2 linked regions of the Homo sapiens genome follow. The protein of the gene in region 1 purifies or fractionates together with the protein of each later gene. This does not show direct contact. Each region holds a gene or a part of one and is shown on either strand. Other genes may lie near its edges.

Region 1 (9,877 bases):
TGTATTTAAAACAGCCTTTAACAAATATCACAATAGACTTTTAAAATTTTGCAGAGCCTTTGCTATTTTTTTAAAATTGCTAACTTGGATATAGCATCATTTTCTACTTAAATAAGCATTGACATTGATTGTTACTTTTTGTACTTTCTCTTCAATTATGATCTTAAAGAAACTTGATAAAACACAGATGTATACCTGTATACCAACAATTTTTATGCTTTATCAGCAAAGGCATCTTCACTTCTAACTTTAAAAAATTCCAGACCAAAAAAAAAATTGTGAAAGGAAAAATAGGTAATCTGAGATGGAAATTAGATAATAGATTGAGCACTGGACTGAATGGTTATGAGATGGTTACTTGTGTTTGGGAATGAGGATTTCTTCTGCCTTGAATGGAACTGGAACATAAGCTAATTATTCATTGTAAATGTCTTGGGAGATGATATCTGCCAGCTTGTGAAGTACCCAGTAGACTCTGGCTTGGGTTTGATGATGATGATACTAGGATTATAAAATGACAGTTCTTAGTTGAGAAAAAAATAATTTTGGATTTTCTGCCTGTGTTTTCTTAATTTCTTTAGTTTAATGTAGACTATTTTTGCCTTAGTTTTAAAGAATTTGAATATTTATGATTTATGCCCTTCTATTTCCAAAAAGGATTATGGCCACTTTACAAAGTAAAAACAAGTATAAAACAGAAAAATTAAAAATAAACAATCAAAAAAGTGAGTACATCATTAACGAACTAAAAAGACCTGAATGAAGACCTGTTAAAATAGGTCAAATTATTCTGGTGTCTAGTAAGAGCTTGAGTATCACCAAGGTGATACTAAGAGTTTACTGTAATAGTTATTAGAAACTAATGTGACCAAGTATATGTGCGTATTATGCTACACATATGTAATTTTAGAAAATGCAAAAGCACTGATGCCAATTACCTCCCTTCTCATATGAAAAAGAACAAATGAGGTATTTCTCCATTCTAATTATTTTTTGCTATTTTTAAAATTTGTTGTTTGAACAGATTAAGAAAATCTTTAATTCATGGATTGTTGCTTTGCACATTTAATAGTGAGATAATTATTAACAACACAAAAAACAATTTTGGCAATTAAGAACAACATAAAGAATCATGTGATCCACAAACAGTTTACATTTGATAAATATTCTTATTGTCTCAATTTATGATATACTTACATTTTGTATTCCTTTTAAATAAAGAACCAAATCAAGAACAGCAGAAATTAGCATCTGTTTAATATATTTTAAAATATGGAAATATATTTAAACAGCACATTTAAAGAATAAAACAATAGACTTCCATTTCTTATTCTCTCAATGGTACACCATTAATTAAAAATATATTACTTAATGTACCCCTTAATATAGTTACTGTCAAATTTTCTTTAAGATAAACTGTATTTCAAAACAACATTTTAATATACCCGAATTACAAACAAAGCCATAACATTTTTGAAGACATTTTTGGTATACGTTTGGTTTGAAAGATCCAAAAGGATGATTAATAAATGGTGCTTTATGAATACTTTAGATTAACGGTAAATAAGCCTAACCACAGAGTCACCATAAATAGCAAGTTATCAATCTAAAGATCATTCTTCAAAAAGTCAGTGTGTGTTAAAGAAAGGCCTTAGAGGGCATTCTAATAGATAGAGAAAATAAATTAATTTTAGAGGGAAGAACACACATGCACACACAGACACACACACACACACACACACAACAGAACCTTCCTGTTTGGAATTATTTGTGCTTGGAAGAAGGTTTACAAAATGCCTTTACAAAATAAGGTTTTCATTGAGCTCACTCTCAAAGATATGAAAAATGAATTTCAGCTGTTCTTTAGAAATGGCAATTCTGTCAAAGCCATTCTGGGACTTTTGGTAATTTCCTCCAGTTTAGTTTCAGTGCTTTTACTTCTAAATAAAATCCCTTGCATCACATCAATCAGCAAACTCAGTTATAAAGGAGAGCTAAAGAAAATGGTTCTTTCGGCATCTTCTGCTCTTGTACATTTTACGCATGCAGTGACTCTTGCCTGTGGGGAGGAAAGTGGAGCACATGTAAATGTTTCTTTATTTTGGACTAGGTTTTTAAATCTGAAAAAAAAATTCTGCAGCAGTAGTGTTCTAGATAATAGGCAGACATGATTTATTTGAGGTAAGAAGGTTGTACTACAATTAGTGTTAACTTGGAAAGCTATGGACACAGGCTCAAGCCTGTCTCCTGAAGCTTTGAGCTCTTTGCAAAATCTACAATCCACAAGCCAAAAAGGAACATGCTCCTACAGTTACACCACTTCTGTTAAAGCAAACAGTTAAAACAATTCTGTGCAATCTTTCAGCTTCTATGTTCTGCCTACCGTTTATTTATTCAAATCCAGTTCAACATTTCACTTTATCTAATGAAGCAGGAACTCTAAAAGAGAAATTGTGTTTATCCAAGAATTTTTGTTTGGGTTGTTATTTTTTTAAGTCTTATTTCTAAATAAATATTCTATCATGGTTTTCATTGGCACAATATAACTAAATTATTCAATTTCCTTCCACAATATTAAACAGTCAAAGGAGTTCTGTCTAATCTCAGAAAATTATGTAAAATTGTATTAGAAAAAAATGTTGAAATGGAATTGAATGGACTCAGCATAACCCATTGAAAATTATACTAGATGATCTATTGTATAATGTAGTGGCCTATGAAATAGATTTTATTGATAAAGCCTCCACAGAAGAGAATATATACGTTTAAATAAATAAAAATGACTATATACATGATATTGTACATAGGAAAAGAGTCAAAATGAGCCAGACTAATTTTAGGAAATTCCCCGTTTGTCTGAAAGTATGCTTTTTATTGCAGCCATAAACCTTAATACAGATCTTTTTGTTATTATCAATATTATTTAATATTAGTGGCAGCCACATGAGCGTACTACCATATTTCTATATTTTTTCAAAATGACATTGGAGCTGTCATCAAAGTACAGAACAGAGATGGCATTTAATTTGGTTGGAGCACAACAAGGCTTTGGTACGTGGTCAGGAAACATCAGATGAACCTGGGAAAGAAAAAAGGTTTTGTTTTATTAAGAAATAAAATATACATTCTTTTGCAGTTTTAAAATGGTATGATTATTTTATCACTCATAATCAGGCACACCATTAAGCTGATCTCCCTTCTCCCATTTATTCCATGACTGGGGTGGGGGACTGAAGGATGTATTCTTAAGCATTAACACCTGGAATCAACCCAGCCAATTCAATTATGTGTTTGAACCTTGAAAAATATCTCACCAAATAAAGAAAACTTCCTCTATAGAATATTCAGTGGAAGTTTTCCTAGGGAAAGAACACAGCAACTAGCACGTTGTTGCTTTTAGTTGAAATAACTGTTCCTATATATATCATGAGGAATATGGAAGTTACAAGAGCAAATCAATGAAAACACATAGTTGCAGAAAGATTTGGATCTAAGAATTATCTTTTAAAAGGAAAATTAAGCAATAAATCATACATTTTAAGCCAACTCTTAATTTTCCATGGTAAAAGAAGCATAAAAATCATAATAAAATAAAATCCACATATAATCCAATACTTGCCTTAGAGCAATGATTTCAGCTCTTCATAGAATTTTTTTATCACATTGGCTGGAGTTTAATATCCATTTACTTTTTTTCTCCCTTGCCTGCCCCCTAGACAAGTGCCAAAAAGCAGGCTAAGCTAAATCAGAAGCAAAGGGCCTAGAGACTTTACAAATGAACATCCACCTCCCCAAAAGCCTAAAAAGGTGTCTGTACATGAAAAGTGAAATGCTTAAGTAAAGGGTTGATAATAATTTTGATCAGACTGGCAGTCTGCCTATGATTTGAAATAATTGAGAAAAGAGCCAGAACACAGTTCCCCCATTTCCCACCCACCTATTCTGGCCCTTCCCCCAGAGGAGTTTATGGGAAATCCCACTGATGAGTCTTACGGGATCCACAAAAAGCAAATACAGCCTCTTACAGTTTTGGCTGTACAACGTCCTGGCTGAAATGATATAGGGGCCTTGCATGTGGACAGAAACAGCAGGAAAAATGAGGTGATCTGACATGAACTTGAAATTTCCTAAGGCCTCACAAAACTAAAAGTTGGATAGTTTCTACAAATTTCTGATGCTGCTTATGTCCTTCATCAGCTTTATCTTCCATAACCCACACATACATGATTGATAATCCTGCTGTTTCAATGGCCTTGGCAGCCTAACGGAAAAAAAATGGATTGTTCTTGAATGGTTTCTCAATATATTAGTCACAAACATGCTTTCCTCCGTCTTTTTGTTTCATGTCCTTCACAGAACAAACATAAAGCGTGCACAACACCAGGGAAAAAAAATCAAACTTCACGTGTATGCTCCAGTTTTGCAATGACTTATGTCCTACATCCCAGGGTAGAGATACAGAGCAGACTCTTGTTCAAAGTTTGTGTCAGATTTTTTTTATATTTGTTTTTTGATACTTTACTACAGCCATAAGAGCTGAAAATATGTATTTATTTATTTTAAAAAAGAAAAAATGAGAGAAGGGGGAGTATTTGACAAAGGGTATTTTTCAATAAGTAGGCATTGCTTAGCCTGAGGGAATTTTTGATACATTAGATCCATATCTAAGGAAGCAAAAGTCTGCTTTCATAGTCATCAAAATGATGATAAAAAGAGGCAAAGAATTTTCTGAGAAATTAAATAGCATTACTTCAACTGATAGGAGTTATTCTATGACCTTACAGAAAGACAGTGATCATGAAGTTCTCTTCATAGGATGAAACAACAGCATTCTTCTTTATCTGATATGCTTTCATGTCAACATGAATTCTCATATACAAAGAGAAAAGTTAGCTTCTTAAAAATTCTTTTAGTGGTAGAAGTTTGAATGCAAAACATCCATCCTTGCAAAGCCTACCTACACTCCATACTCCTGGAAACACTATTCCATATAAAGAAGAGCTTATACTTACAGATAGCAAAGGTGAAGTCATATCAGACTTTAAATCCCCCCAGAAATTTACTCTTTACCTTGTATATGGCACTAAAGTAGGCATTCTCACTGGTCATGAATCAATAAAAAGAAGAATACTTATAAATAATTTATTATCAAAATGTATATTTGCTTTATCTTTCTGTTGCTCTCTAGCCCAAGGTTATTTCCAGTCTTTGATAACGTTCATGCTCTAGTTGTTATAGATTGCACTTTTTGGTGTCTAGATATTCTGTCGTATTTTATTAAGTCAATAAAGATGCCAGTAAATATCAAGTCATTCAAGTATTTGCTTTTGCCAGTTCACAGATATCATTGTTTATTCCTTAATTCAGCTTTAAGTTTTAAATTAATTGTGGGGGAAAATAGCAAACTTATGGAGAGTCGAATCTTCACAAATTCTAAGAGTAATTCTTTCTTTTTCCATAAATAAACCTCACCCACAAAGACAAGATTGTCTACTATCTACTTTTCTCTTACTGGCGTCCACCAAATAATTCCACTCCCATCAAGCCTTGATTCTAAAATAATGTGTTCTCTCCCATTCTTCTTAAATACAAAAGTTAAAATTTTTATATTAGCCCAAACATTGATTTAAAATTATGTCACATAGTCTGGTATGTTTTCTAGGAGCCTCTCATTTAGTCTTAGGGAGATTGTTCCTCTGCCAAATCGATAGGCCAGATGCTATGAGGTACATCAGACTCTCAATAGGTTTCATGAGCTCATTAGGTACAAGGCAATCAGTTAATCACGTCAACCCTTCAGTACATTGTTCATAAAAATAAGCCTAGATTATTAGAGATTTAATCACTGCTAAGTTTCTGAGATTGAGGAATAAAGAAAAGGAAGTATAATTTCTACTTTAAAGATTACAGGAGGAGGAGGAGAACAATAAGAAATAGAAATTAGCTTCCTATTTGTATACTACATTGAAGAACTTTTATAATACCAAAGTATGTTATAGAACATTCTTAAATAATTAAAAACCCTCAGATGAAATTTAGTACAGCTATTACTCAATGTTTTTGCAATGATTACTAATGAATTGCTAGGTTAGAAACAGCCCCAGGGAACCTGTGTGCTTAGTCATACTGTGTAATGAACAAACAGTTCAAGATGACCATTTCATGTTATTACTCCAGTTTTCCTAGCTGAATCCTTCTCCATTGTGTAACTGGGATTACTCTAAACCAGCCCGAGTTTCCTGACTATACCCACAGTTGTTACTTCAGCTCTAAAAAGAAACAAATGAGTTTGAGAAGATAAAATAATGCATTAAAATTGTAAATAGATGCTTTCCTCTAAAACAACTTTATAATATGCTTGCATTCTAAGCTTTTCTTAATCCTTCAAAAACAAAGCTTACCAGAGTCTGAACTATAGCGTGGTTGGTGGCATTCATATGGGCGTTAAGTGGAAAAGAACATTCTCCATCACAATAAAATGCAGCGTATCCTTCTGGTGCTATAATCCAGTCCTGACACATACACACACACACACACACACAAAAAAAAAAAAAAAAAAAAAAAAAAAAAAAAAAAAAAACAACAAGAAAAAATATCACCAAAGTAAAAATTTTTAAAAAATCTTAAAAGTTATTGAAATATATTGTATCTGAATAGGTTTCTATTCTTGGTCCAACAATTATTCTAATGGAATTATCTTCCCCACACCCTTTAATTTTAAGCTGAAGTTTAGGACAAAAGTATAAATATTTTCACAAGAAATTGTCCTCTCTAATTACTCCCAAGGGGTAGTTATGTAAGATATTCATAGTATGTATTAAACATGTATTCACGAATAAAACTATTATAAGAAAATAGCATTCTAAATATTGTTTAAACAGGAAATGATGAACTCTGGAAAGTTCAAGTGAACCCGAAAGAAAAAGGAGAATCAAGTTAATTGAGATCATTCTCATTACTTCTTAAGAACTCATTCTTAGTTTTATAAGTCTGACAACATCCTAAAGCCTTAATATTTTTTCTGCATGCTGTTTTTCTTTCCATTCATGCATTAACTTTATGGTCTCTTTAGAAAAAATAAATTGGAGCAAATTCCTAAAAACTGAACATGATAAATTTCGGGAAGCTAAAGAATTGGTACATGAATGGTTGCCTTGATATTTTTCCCACAGAGAAATAAAACTTGGCACAAATGTAGGAATTATTGAGTTATTCATGTGGAAAGTTTATCATGAATTTTGAATATATTTACATTTTAATAGTATTTCTCAATACAGGAACTCATATATGAGAATCCATTCTAATAGAATATTAGGAGAAGTCTTAAAATTTCATTTTAAACTGTCACCACATAGAGCCATTAAAAAATTACTTTGGTGAAATTTTCCTCCTCATCCTGTTTCTAAAGGCTACCCAAAAGATAGCAATACATTTTTAAGTGCAAGAAAAAAAAATGTCTGTCATCTTCCCCATGACAGGGACATTCCAATAGTTGGAGACCCTCAGAGGCTTAGTGGAGTTACTTATACTAATATGAACAAATCTTCTATTTACAATAAAATTAAAAGTTTGGAATACTTAAACAACGGCACTCTTTTTTTTCTTCCTAAATATCTTAGTGTTCTATGTCTCATTCAGCGTAGTTTTTTTGTTTGACTGTGATACCTACTAATCATGTTTCAATGGTAAAAGGTTAATTGAGAAATGAAAATAAAGTGAATAAGCCATATTCTAAATGGTCATGTCAAAAATCATTGGGTATTATATTGGAAAATTACTGCCAAAGACTATGACTTATTAAGGATTTATGATAATTCAGAAAAGAAGCACCAAAGTTGACTGAAAATTCCTACCTGCCATCCCAGATCCCGGAAGCTCACATAGAGTTCGTGCTTCTTACAGGCTTGTTTTTGCTCACTTGTGTTATAATCTGAAGATAAAAACCACATTTTGAATAAATGGTTGCTTACAGATATACTAATACTTCTTTTGTGAGATCACTGGTAAGATTTTTTAAAGGGGTTTTATTTGAAGTTGTGGAAAAATGAGTTTCAATCTTAAAGTTAGAACTACTTACTAACCATGTGAACTTCAGTCAAGTTACTTGTCCTGAGTTTCTTCTTCTGTGAGATGTAGACAATACCATTTACCTGATGAAGCTCTAACATGGATTCTGTTAAGCCATCTACTTGACAGGGCACAGCATGGTGTCTGTCGTTCATTGAGTACCATCTGCTCAATGAATACTTATTCATTAATTCATTCATACTCTAGGGGTACTTAATATATTGAGAGAGATTATATATATATAATATTTGTGCAATAACTTGTAACATCTTCCATGAGGCAGATACTGGGATCTTACTTAGCTGATTTTATTTTAATAAATATCTTAACCTCAGGATACCACAAGTTGAGCTTCTAATCATCCCCCAAAATCCTGTCCACCTGTAGACTTCATTCTTGACTAATGGTAGTTGCCTGGGTTAAAAAATAAAAACCAAAACAAAACAACAAGAATCAAAATAGTTCTTTTTTTTTCTTTCATTTACACATCCAATCTGTCAGGAAATCTCACACACTATCTTCAATAAGTCCAAAATGCACCTGCTCTCACGCCCTTCATAATTGGTCTTGGTCCAAGACACCATCATCTCTGGCATGAATTACTGCAATATCCTCATTGCTAGTCTCCCTGCTTCTGCCCTTGCTCCTCTATAGCAAACTAGTCAAGTGGACCTTTTAACAAGTAAACTTAATTACATCACTTCCCTGCCAGTCCCTCTATGGTCTTCATATCATTAAGAGTGAAATATTCTCAGAGTGGTTACAAGGCTCTTTACATTTTGGTCTTATTACCCCTCTGACTCATTTGATCCTATTACCCCTCTGACTCTCACTTCTTCTCCTTCACCTTGCTCCAGCCACCATACCTCCTTGCTGTTTCACTCACAGTCAACCTTGCTCCCACTTTAGAGCCTTTTCTCTCACTAGTCCCTCTCCCTGGATAGCTACATGGCTAATTCCTGCATCTTCATGTCCTTGCTTAAGCAACATCTCAACAAGACCTTCACTACCCTTTTAATATTGCAACTCTCACCCTGATACACCTGATTTCTCTCACTCTGTTCTGATTTTTTTCCATCTCAATTATCACTTTTAGAAATGCTATGTCATTTCCTCATTTATTTATGTGTGGCTTCTTGTCTGTTTCCTCCCACTAAAATATAAGCGTCATAGGGGCAAGAATCTCGTTTGGCTCTGTTTTGCTCACTGATGTATCCCTAGTGCCAGGAACAGTGCCTGGCATAAAATAAACATTCAAAAAAGTATCTGAGGAGTTAATGGACAAATTTCTCATAGTGTTCCATAAGTGATTTGAGGCAAGTGAAATACTATCATTACATATTTTGGAATGTAATCTGAAATACCCATAACTTTTTATAATTGTTTTAAATTATTAAATATAAATGTAGAATTTCAATCTTGCATCTGGAATAAAGTAAAATACTGAAGAAACACAGAGATTTATGGAACATTTTTCATTCTTGTCTTGTGTTGGGTTTGCTCACATTTTGTACAAATAACATTCGAAAAACTAGTCCACTTTGATTATTTCTAAAATAAAATATTAAAGAAATAAAATTAAAAAATAATTTGTTTTACAGTTTTTGTTAAAGTGTCACCTTCCTGTTTAATTACTCTCAACCTCTAATGAAAGTGTAGGCAAGTTAGAGATCAAAGGAGCCCATCATAGAGGGCCTTGCTTCTCATGGTTACTTCAAGTAATTATTTGTTTAATGTTAATCTAAAAAACAAGCTAATGATTAAATTTTGAAATCAAGGTATTTTTCTTCTAGGTTATTTATTCCTACTA
Region 2 (9,755 bases), on another chromosome or scaffold:
AATTAAAGCCAAGATGGCCCTGACAGTTCTGGAGTTATGTGAGGCTATAAGCATCCATAATCTTAGAAAGAGTCCCTGCACCTATATCCATCTCTGACAAAGCTCTCTGATTGGTGCCGGGTCAAGCACTATGAGGCCAAATCACATGCCGAACCTGTGTGCCTGGTGAGGTGGAGTTAGGTGATGGACAGCCTCACTTGGTATGCAAGATGCAGGTGTAACTTGCATCAGAGAAGCAGAAGGAGTGGTCTGGCAGGCAGATATGACAGAATATCTAGTAAAGAGCGAAACATAGACATTGCTCCTTTGGAGGTAAAGGGATGGAATACCAATGTACCCTTTTATACACTTCTTCATATGTAATGAAAAATACTTATCATAGTAATCAAGGCTTCTAGACACGCCTCAAACACTGAATTTACATTTAATGCCCATTCAAAATATTTTAAATTATGGAGTTGCCTAACTTCTAAAGATTGGTTACTCGAATTGTTAACATTTCCTGAATACCTACTGTGTGCCAGGTGTTTTGCTAGACACTTTACATCTGTTATTGAAGCCTCACAACACTCTATTAAGTACTATCATATCTTTTTTTTTTTTTTTTTTTTTTGAGACAGGGTCTTGGCTCTGTTGCCAGGCTGGAGTGTGGTGGAGCGATCTTGGCTCACTGCAACCTCGACTCCTTGGTTCAAGTGATTATCCTGCCTCAGCCTCCTGAGTAGCTGGGATTACAGGCACGTGCCATCACGCCCAGCTAATTTTTGTATTTTTGGTAAAGACGGGGTTTCACCATGTTGGCCAGGATGGTCTCGATCTCCTGACCTCATGACCACCCGCCTCAGCCTCCCAAAGTGCTGAATTACAGGCGTGAGCCACCAAGTCCAGCCATATCTGTTTTACAGATGAAAATATTGAGGTGCAGAAAAGATAGCAATTTGGCTAATGTCATACAACTAGAAGTGATGAAGTATGATTGAAGCCCAGATTTGCCTGGTTCAAAAGCCCATAGTCTTCTTCGTATTTCTTCCTTACTTAAATCTATTTGCTCACATGGATTTGAGCTGCCTAAGTGTGGTGGAGGGAAAAAGTAATGTAAGTTGGCAACCTACTAGAAAGTGTCAATATTCTTAGTATGCAGAAAGCTCTTAAAATTAGTTAGAAAAATATTTTAAAAATACACAAAGGAGAATTAGATAAATAATAACTAAAAACACAAATTACTTATGAAAAAATGTTTATCCTTACTGGTAATCAAAGGGATAAAAATAAAAATACCCATCTATCTGGTCAGCCCTTTCTCTCTCTCCAAACCAGTCCCCCTAGCCCCTGTCTCCCACCTGTCTTCTCCAGCTCTGCAGCAGGCATACATCAAATGAAAGAGGCTGGGAATGGTGGCTCATGCCTGTAATCCCAGTAGTTTGGGAGGCAGAGGCAGGGAGATCACTTGAGCCCAGGAGTTTAAGACCAGCCTGGGAAACATAGTGAAACCTTGTCACTACAAAAAAACAAATTAGCTAGGCATGGTGGTACATGCCTGTAGTCCCAGCTACTAGGGAGGCTGAGGTGGGAGAATTGCTTGAGCCCAGGAGGTAGTGGCTGCAATGAGCTGTAATCATGCCACTGCACTCCAGCCTGGGTGACAGAGCCAGATCCTGTCTCAAAAAAATGGAAAAAAGAGCAATAAGAGGTCAGTCTTGGAGTACCAAAGAACCAGTGACTTTTGTGTTTTTTTTGTTTTTTTGTTTGTTTTTTGTTTTGAAACAGAGTTTTACTCTTGTTGCCCAAGTTGGAGTGCAATGGCACGATCTCAGGTCACTGCAATCTCTGCCTCCTGAGTTCAAGCGATTCTCCTGCCTCAGCCTCCCGAGTAGCTGGGATTACAGGTGCACATCACCGCACCCAGCTAATTTTTTGTATTTTTAGTAGAAATGGGGTTTCTCCATGTTAGCTAGGCTGGTCTCGAACTCCTGACCTCAGGTGATCCGCCCGCCTCGGCCTCCCAAAGTGTTGGGATTACAGGCGTGAGCCACTGCACCTGGCTGTGATTTTCCTTTTTCCCTCCCTCTCTATAAAGAACAGTTGTACAGCTTCATGACTGAAATGTGTGGCACATGGGTGATCTCCTATAGGTATTACTAAAGATGAATATTCTTGGGCCCTTTCAGACCTATTGACTCAGAATCTCTGGGTGCAGGGAGGAACGAAACCCTATAATCTGCATTTTAATAAGTTCTCCAGGTAATTAGGATGCACACAAAAGTCTGGGAACCAGTGGTATGAACCTTTGATTTCTTAGCTGGGGTAGACAGTAGGGAGGAGTGGAGCACCCACCTTTTTTCAGTCAGACATAGCATGGAAGGATTATTAGTTGCATTTTTCATCAAGTTACATTAATGTGGTATGTAAAAAATATTCCTCCCAAACTCTGGAAAGAGCTTGACAGTCAATACTAGCTTTTGGTAGTGTGATTTTCTTTTTTCTTTTTTTTTTTTTTTTTGAGACAGAGTCTCACTCTGTTGCCCGGGCTGGAATGCACTGGTGCGATCTCAGCTCACTGCAACCTCTGCTTCCCGGGTTCAAGCGATTCTCCTGCCCCTGCCTCCCGAGTAGCTGGGATTACAGGCACCCACCATCACGCCTGGCTAATTTTTGTATTTTTAGTAGAGATGGGGTATTGCCATGTTGGCCAGGCTGGTCTCAACTCCTGACCTCAGGTGATCCACCCATCTCAGCCTCCCAAAGTGCTGGGATTATAGGTTTGAGCCACTGTGCCCGGCTGGTAGCTTGTTTTTTAATAAGCATGTGATCAGATATTTTAGTGAGAGTTTGAGAGACTTTACACAGATTGTGATGAACATCTTTTAAAACAAAACACCTTTGGTTCTTCTTTAAAAACATTGTGAAGGTCCATTCTTTCCCATTCAGTCTCATTGCCATCAGCACTGTTCATCATTTCAAGTAGAGACTATTTTTACTGCCACGTAGCTAGCACTTGATGCTTCCTGTCTTCCTAATTCAATTCATAGTATGTCACCACCTAAAACACGATCAAAAAGTCCAGTAGCTGCCCAGTTTGCTCATCGGATGAAGTCCAACTTCATCCAGCTACTCAAGATTCTTCACTCTGTAACCTTCTCCTCCTGCTCTGCCAACACCTTCTACTACTTTCGAAAGATTAACCTCCTCATCTGGCTGGTCTCATGGCCCCTGTAACTGAACTCTGTCAGGACTCCAAGCCTCTACTTAGGCTCTATACCCCGCTTCTCTGTGTATCCAGTCCTAAATGGCATTCAAAGTTAAGCTCAGGTGCTGCCTTTTCTCAGGCTCAAAGTTTTCCTCCCCATTGTAGCTTTGTCACTCTAAAAAACCTTCACCATTTTTCCATTTCCTGGAGGTTAATGTGCAAACTCCTTCTCTTGGCATACAACATGGCCCCAGATTCTCTTTCTGGTCTTATTCTTACAAACTGTTGTATATACTTGACCTCTAGACACACTGAATCACTCTCTGGTTCTCAATCATGCCCTGCACTTTCAGCTGTTTCTTTCTCTCTCTCTCTGTACATGATCTGTCTGCCAGATTTGACTTGTCTCAGCCTGACAAACTCTTGTATAATATATCCTACATGAATCATTTCAAACACTACCTTCTCTGTGAAGACTCCAGGTGCAGCAATCCACTCCACAGTATGTTGAACCTAAATCTCTTGACACGTGTCTCACTGTATTGCAATTCTTTATTTGCATATTTATCATCAATACCTAATGTGAGCCCATTGATTCACAGTATCTAGCAGGGTACTGTTTATACAGCAGTTACTCAATAAATGTTGTCGTTGGGAGGCTGAGGCAGGAGGATCACTTGAGGCCAGGAGCTTGAGACCAGCCTGGGCAACATAACAAGACTCCACTGCTACGAAAACAAAAACACAAAAATTAGCCAGGCACAGTGGTGCACGCCTGTAGTCTCAGCTACTAGGGAGGCTGAAGCAGGAGGATCACTCGAGCCCAGGAGTTCGAGGTTGCAATGAGCTATAATACTGCCGCTGCACCCCAGCCTGGGCAACAGAGTGAGACTTTGTCTCTAAAAAAAATAAAACTAGGCAAAAAATGTTGTTGAATGCTCTAACTTGTGTTGATCTCTCCATTGTCTTAACTCCAAGAGCTCTTAGTGCTTATATCAACCACTTTGCAAAATTGCCTTAGGTTGTTCTCCCATTCTTTCAGGTGTCTACTGAGTTCCAGCGAGATTAAATGGAGATATCTTGACCAAGGTATTCAATTCTTCTAGCCTCAGTTTCTTCATCTGTAAAACGGAGGATAATAATAGTACCTCAAAGCATTTTTATGTGAAATGGGATAATTCATTAAAATCTTGATACATACAATGTGCTCAAAGTAGGAAAAGCATTTTATAAGCTTACATCCTAAATTTATGTCTTAGGGTTGCTATGAGGATTAAATGAGAAGATACACATGAAACGAAGTCATAATATATTGTGTAACTACTTATTACCTTTATTTTCACTGTCTCCTCATCTAGGTTAGAAGCCTGGTTCAGCCTTCATTCCTCAAGTTCTTCCGCTGGATGCCCAAAGCCTTCCTTACCTAGCCTTGTTTGACTTTTACAGTCTCCACTCTAACACTCTCTTCTCAGCACTCATCACAGGGTCAGGCGCAGGGTAGGTGCTATGTATTTAGACAGTGGCAGCTCTAGAATTAGCAAGGTCTTTAGCTGAAAGTGAGGTCTTCTGCCTTCTTTTTGATGTTTGCTTGTATAACTTGTCTCAAATATTTTGCCTTAGTCAATTCACTGTGACATTTTGGGGATGCAGTCTAATTACATTAGGCTTAGTTTGCTTTGTGGTAGGACCATTTCCGATGTTGGAATGTACAAGAGGGAGGCAGCCTTAGCCAGTGTCCTACTTTTTCCTTTACTAAAGACATAAATCATCTTTATATAACTTTTGTATTACAGCATGACTAGAAAAGTGCTTGATCTGGATCCTTTCTGATATTTAAGCAATTTCCATCTATCACTAAGATGTGAATTTTTTCCTTAGAATTTAGGAAGCGGTAATAAAACACAGAAACAAACAACCACCACCAAAAGGACAAAGGGTAAAGCTTTCACGTACGGTTTGGAAACACTAGTGTGGTTACAATGAATCAAGACAGTTGTGAAAGTTCCCATCATCTTGTGCATGTTTTCTCCATTTCCGAAATCTGAAGCCGAATACAGGGAAAGCTCCCTATACTTACTGGGCCTTTAACTAAGAAACGAAGACTTGGGGCAAGCATCTGAAGAGTCACACCGACAAATGCTCCTAAAACCCTTGGCATTTACTGAACTCCTGAGATTCTGTGGGATCGCAGGGAAACGGCGGGTGAAGGCCTGGTGCATCCAGGTGAACAGACAGTCTCACGGACTGCGAGGCGCTTGCCAGAGCCCAGCGCCGCAGCTCGGAGCACCCCCGCGGTGCGGGCAGTCCCGGGACGGTGCCGGCTCTTTGGGCTGGAGCTCCGCAGGCTCTTTCCGCCCGTCTGGGCCATGCAGGGCCGGGTAGGGCCGGGCTGAGTCTACTGAGCCGGCCGCGCCGCGGGGGAAGGAGTTTCCGGCGGACTCGGCTAGGTGCCGCTTCCTGTCCCCTTCTCCGCGCTGCCTCACGGTGCCTGCACGGGACGCCGCTCGATCCCCGAGCCCCCTCGCCGTCCCCGACAGCCCCCCCGGCGCCATGCAATCCCGGCTTCTACTCCTCGGGGCACCCGGAGGCCACGGCGGCCCGGCCTCGCGGCGCATGCGGCTGCTCCTGCGGCAGGTGGTGCAGCGCAGGCCGGGTGGCGACAGGCAGCGGCCGGAGGTCAGACTGTTGCACGCCGGCTCGGGGGCCGACACAGGTAACTCGGGGTGCGCCCCTGTCCTCCCTGGTGCCCCTGCGCTCCGTGCCGGGTCCCCGCGCGCCCCCGCCCCTCCTCTCTGTTGCTTCGCTGCGCTTGGAAGGACCGTTTGCCGAGCGGGGAGCTGAAAGATTGAGGTTCTAGTCCCGACCTCGGCGCTAACTGCTGTGTAACGTGGGGGCAAGGCGCTCGCCCTCTCTGTGCCTGATTCTGCAACCCGAGGGGTCTGGACTAAGGTTTCTGATGACCTAGAAGAGTGATTTCTCCTTCCCCTGCCGCTGCCTTTACCCCCAGAATTCTGACTTAGGTTATAATACTCGTAGAGGTTAATGCCTCAGCCCTATGGAATTATTGAAAGCTGGATTTGACCTTGCTCTCTGAGCCTCAAGGGCCTGGAAGCCGGTCTGTGTCATGTTCTAGCCAGGGCTTGTGGCGGCTTAGAAGGGAACATTCTTGCCAAAGAACCCATAGTTCACGGTGTTTTAAATGCATCCCCGAGCCTTTCCAAGTTTTACAGGAGTTTTCCTTAAAGTTTCACGTAATTCTTAGAGCTGACAGTTACACCTTAATTTAGTTAAAACACTTGCCTCTACAAATGAGGTAATTGAAACCCAGAAGGGAAAAGTGATTCGCTGGAGAACACACAACTAATTACTATGCTAGAATCACATGCTTTGATTTCTAAGCTCAGTATTTTTTGGCTCTACTTGAGCTGGTTTTAGGAATTCTTTTTCTTGTGTGTTGGTGGAGTTAGAGTTACTGTGATGGTTAAGGAAAGGATATCTGTTGTTGCTACCCTTGAATGGTGAAGTGATTCCAGACAAGATTTTGTCAATGTCAGTGCTGCTTGGAATAACAGGTTTTCACTATGAAATTGTAGGTTTCGTTGTCCTCTTGCATTTTCCCCGCAACCCCCAGTTTTCCTTGCTAAGAAATGAGCATATGGGCCGGGCGCGGTGGCTCACGCCTGTAATCCCAGCACTTTGGGAGGCTGAGGCGGGCGGATCACGGGGTCAGGAGATCGAGACCATCCTGGCTAACACGGTGAAACCCCCGTGTCTACTAAAAAGAAAATACAGAAAAATTAGCCGGGCGTGGTGGCGGGCGCCAGTAATCCCAGCTACTCCGGAGGCTGAGGCAGAAGAATGGCGTGAACCCGGGAGGCGGAGCTTGGAGTGACCGGAGCCACTGCACTCCGGCCTGGGCGACAGAGCAAGACTCCATCTCAAAAAAAAAAAAAAAAAAAGCATATTTAGGTCCCACGTATTTCGTTTTATTCATTGAAGACATACACCACCCCCGTCCCCCACCATAGTGTTGCAATTTCAAATTTTACTTTTTGTTTTTTTTTTTTTTTTTGCTTTTTCTCAATTACTCTCACTTCTGGGCTGTTTATTCATTTGTTTTTTACATTTTTTGTGTGTTCTTTATTTGTTTTTTGCTCCTTTGCCCTAGAAGGCAGAGGTCAAAGGTGGAAGTATAGCATAAACTATAGGTTGGGTTTTGGAGTTAAACAATTTGGGTTGGAATCCACTTATCCACTATCTAACCATGGGTCGTTGAGGGTAGGTTACTTAACTTTGTGTCCTAGTTTTCTTAACTGTAAAAGGATAAGAAGAATATATCTATTATGGTTGTTGTGAGGATTTATTAATTAATATAATCTGTGGCACATATTAATGCTCAATAAAAGTTAGCTTTTTTATTCTTAGTATGTACAGTTTTAGCTATTTGAGAATTATTCTGTTTCCTTGCCTTTAGAAGACATGAAACCAAGTTTGTTTAGATTCAGGACTGTTCAGACTATCTGGGTAGGCAGATTTAGCCGAGTGAATTGACTTGAACTTTTTAAAAAACAATTGTTCTTTGTACATGGATAATACATGTTGATTGTAAAAACACATGTGGGTGTGAGTTTTTAAAGTCTGTATTATATACGTATTGGTAGATAAGTTGTAAATGTCCTCAAATTTTGTTATAGCCAGTAAATCAAAGTATAGGCTTTGCTTCAAATGTGAGAGTCATGGACATATTACAGAGAACATACTATCTTCTTTAAATCAGTCATTTACTCTGGCAGGATCAGACCAAAAAGAGGTATTTTTTGAGGGTGTGAGAACTGTAACTGAATGCAGCTGGGAACCCACCAGAGATCTGGACTTGAGTAAGAGCAGTTGTGAGCCAGGTAAATGGACAGCACACTTTTGGCTACTCTGAGGCCTGAGAGTAAGGCTATCAAGATGGAAGTGTCCCATTTTGAATCAGAGATCATACATGGACAAGTGTAAAACTACAAATAGCAATAGGCCATAATGGATTACATCTTATGTTGGGATGATGCTCTCAGCTGCATTCATACATGTGACCAGTAACTGATTATCTCCTCTCTCTGTAATTGACATTGCTTCCTAATAGTTTGAAAAAAGAACAACAAAGTTCATAAATAATATATTTAAGTTATATACTGCTGTTATTTCTCCTGGAGTATTTGTTTTGTTTATCTATATATTCGTTTGGTGCCTGCCAACACTTTGTACCTAGTAAGCATTCAGTGGCTTATTTTGTGAAAGTTCATACAGAGAAGGAGCAGGAGAGGCTGGAATTGTCGTTTGCTCTCAAGAGAGGACCTTTGTTAAGCCTGATAAGCAGAAGGAAAATAGGTCATTTATGTTAAAAACAAAACAAGCAGATAAACTCAACCCAAACCCACTGCTTTTTATCCTGTGCTGTCAGATAGTATAAGTATCTATAATTGTAAATTCTTTATATCTCTTTATACTTCCATTAAAATTACTGTCTCTTGGTTTTAAGAGCAAAGAGGTTAACAAGGATATCTACTGCAGAGAGTTTTCAATAAAGATTATTGTAGTGTTTTTACAGATGGAGCCAAGCAAGTTGTTTCAGTGGGACTCTGATGTTAAATGGATTCAAATATACTATAGATCAAATGATAAACCTAGAAACATAACTGTATAAATATATCATGACATTTTGGTGCTTTCCTTTAACGCCATTATTATTAAAGGGATTCACAGTTTTTTCTTTATGACTCTTGTATATGAAGTAAATTTGTTTATAGAAATACCCTAAAATACTTTTACACAGCAATCTATGTTTATTATAGAAGAGTGATAAGTACAGATTCCCTAAAACATGATCCTCCCACCCAAATTTATAATTATCAACTTTTTAGCATTAATCCTATCAGATTACATATATATGTATAATTATTTATTTATTTATTTTTGAGATGGAGTCTTGCTGTGGCACCCAGGCTGGAGTGCAGTGGAGCAGTCTTGGCTTACTGCAACCTCCACCTCCTGGGTTCAAGCGATTCTCCTGCTTCAGCCTCCCAAGTAGCTGGGACTACAGGTGTGCACCACTGTATTAATCTGTTCTCACACTGCTATAAGGACATGCCAGAGACTGGGTAATTTATGAAGAAAAAGAGGTTTCATGGACTCAATAGTTTCGCATGGCTGGGTAGGCCTCACAATCATTGTGGAAGGCGAAGGAGGAGAAAAGTCACGTCTTACATAGCGGCAAGTAAGAGAGCTTGTGTACAGAAACTCCCCTTTATAGAACCATCAGACCTCGTGAGACTTTTTCACTACCACGAGAACAGCACAGGAAAAACCTGCCCCCATGATTCAATTACCTCCCACTGGGTCCCTCCCATGACACATGGGGATTATGGGAGCTAGAATTCAAGACAAGATTTGGGTCGGACACAGGCAAACCATATGAGCCACCCCAGCTAATTTTTGTATTTTTGGTAGAGATGGGGTTTCACCATGTTGGCCAGGCTGGTCTCGAACTCCTGACTTAAAGTGATCTGCCCATCTTTGCCTCCCA

What was found.
Region 2: the proteins of BMP5 (region 1) and VWA8 purify together in Homo sapiens (affinity purification with mass spectrometry; 2 studies listed by BioGRID and IntAct, with this or other methods). This does not show direct contact.

The regions. Positions count from the first base shown.
Region 1 is NC_000006.12:55,752,604-55,762,480, forward strand, and holds the end of BMP5 (bone morphogenetic protein 5 isoform 1 preproprotein), read right to left. Parts: intron 7,931-9,877; coding exon 7,854-7,930; intron 6,513-7,853; coding exon 6,402-6,512; intron 3,080-6,401; coding exon 2,930-3,079; 3' UTR 1,050-2,929; downstream 1-1,049.
Region 2 is NC_000013.11:41,956,998-41,966,752, reverse strand, and holds the start of VWA8 (von Willebrand factor A domain-containing protein 8 isoform a precursor), read left to right. Parts: upstream 1-5,643; 5' UTR 5,644-5,737; coding exon 5,738-5,900; intron 5,901-9,755. UniProt on the Homo sapiens protein: Exhibits ATPase activity in vitro.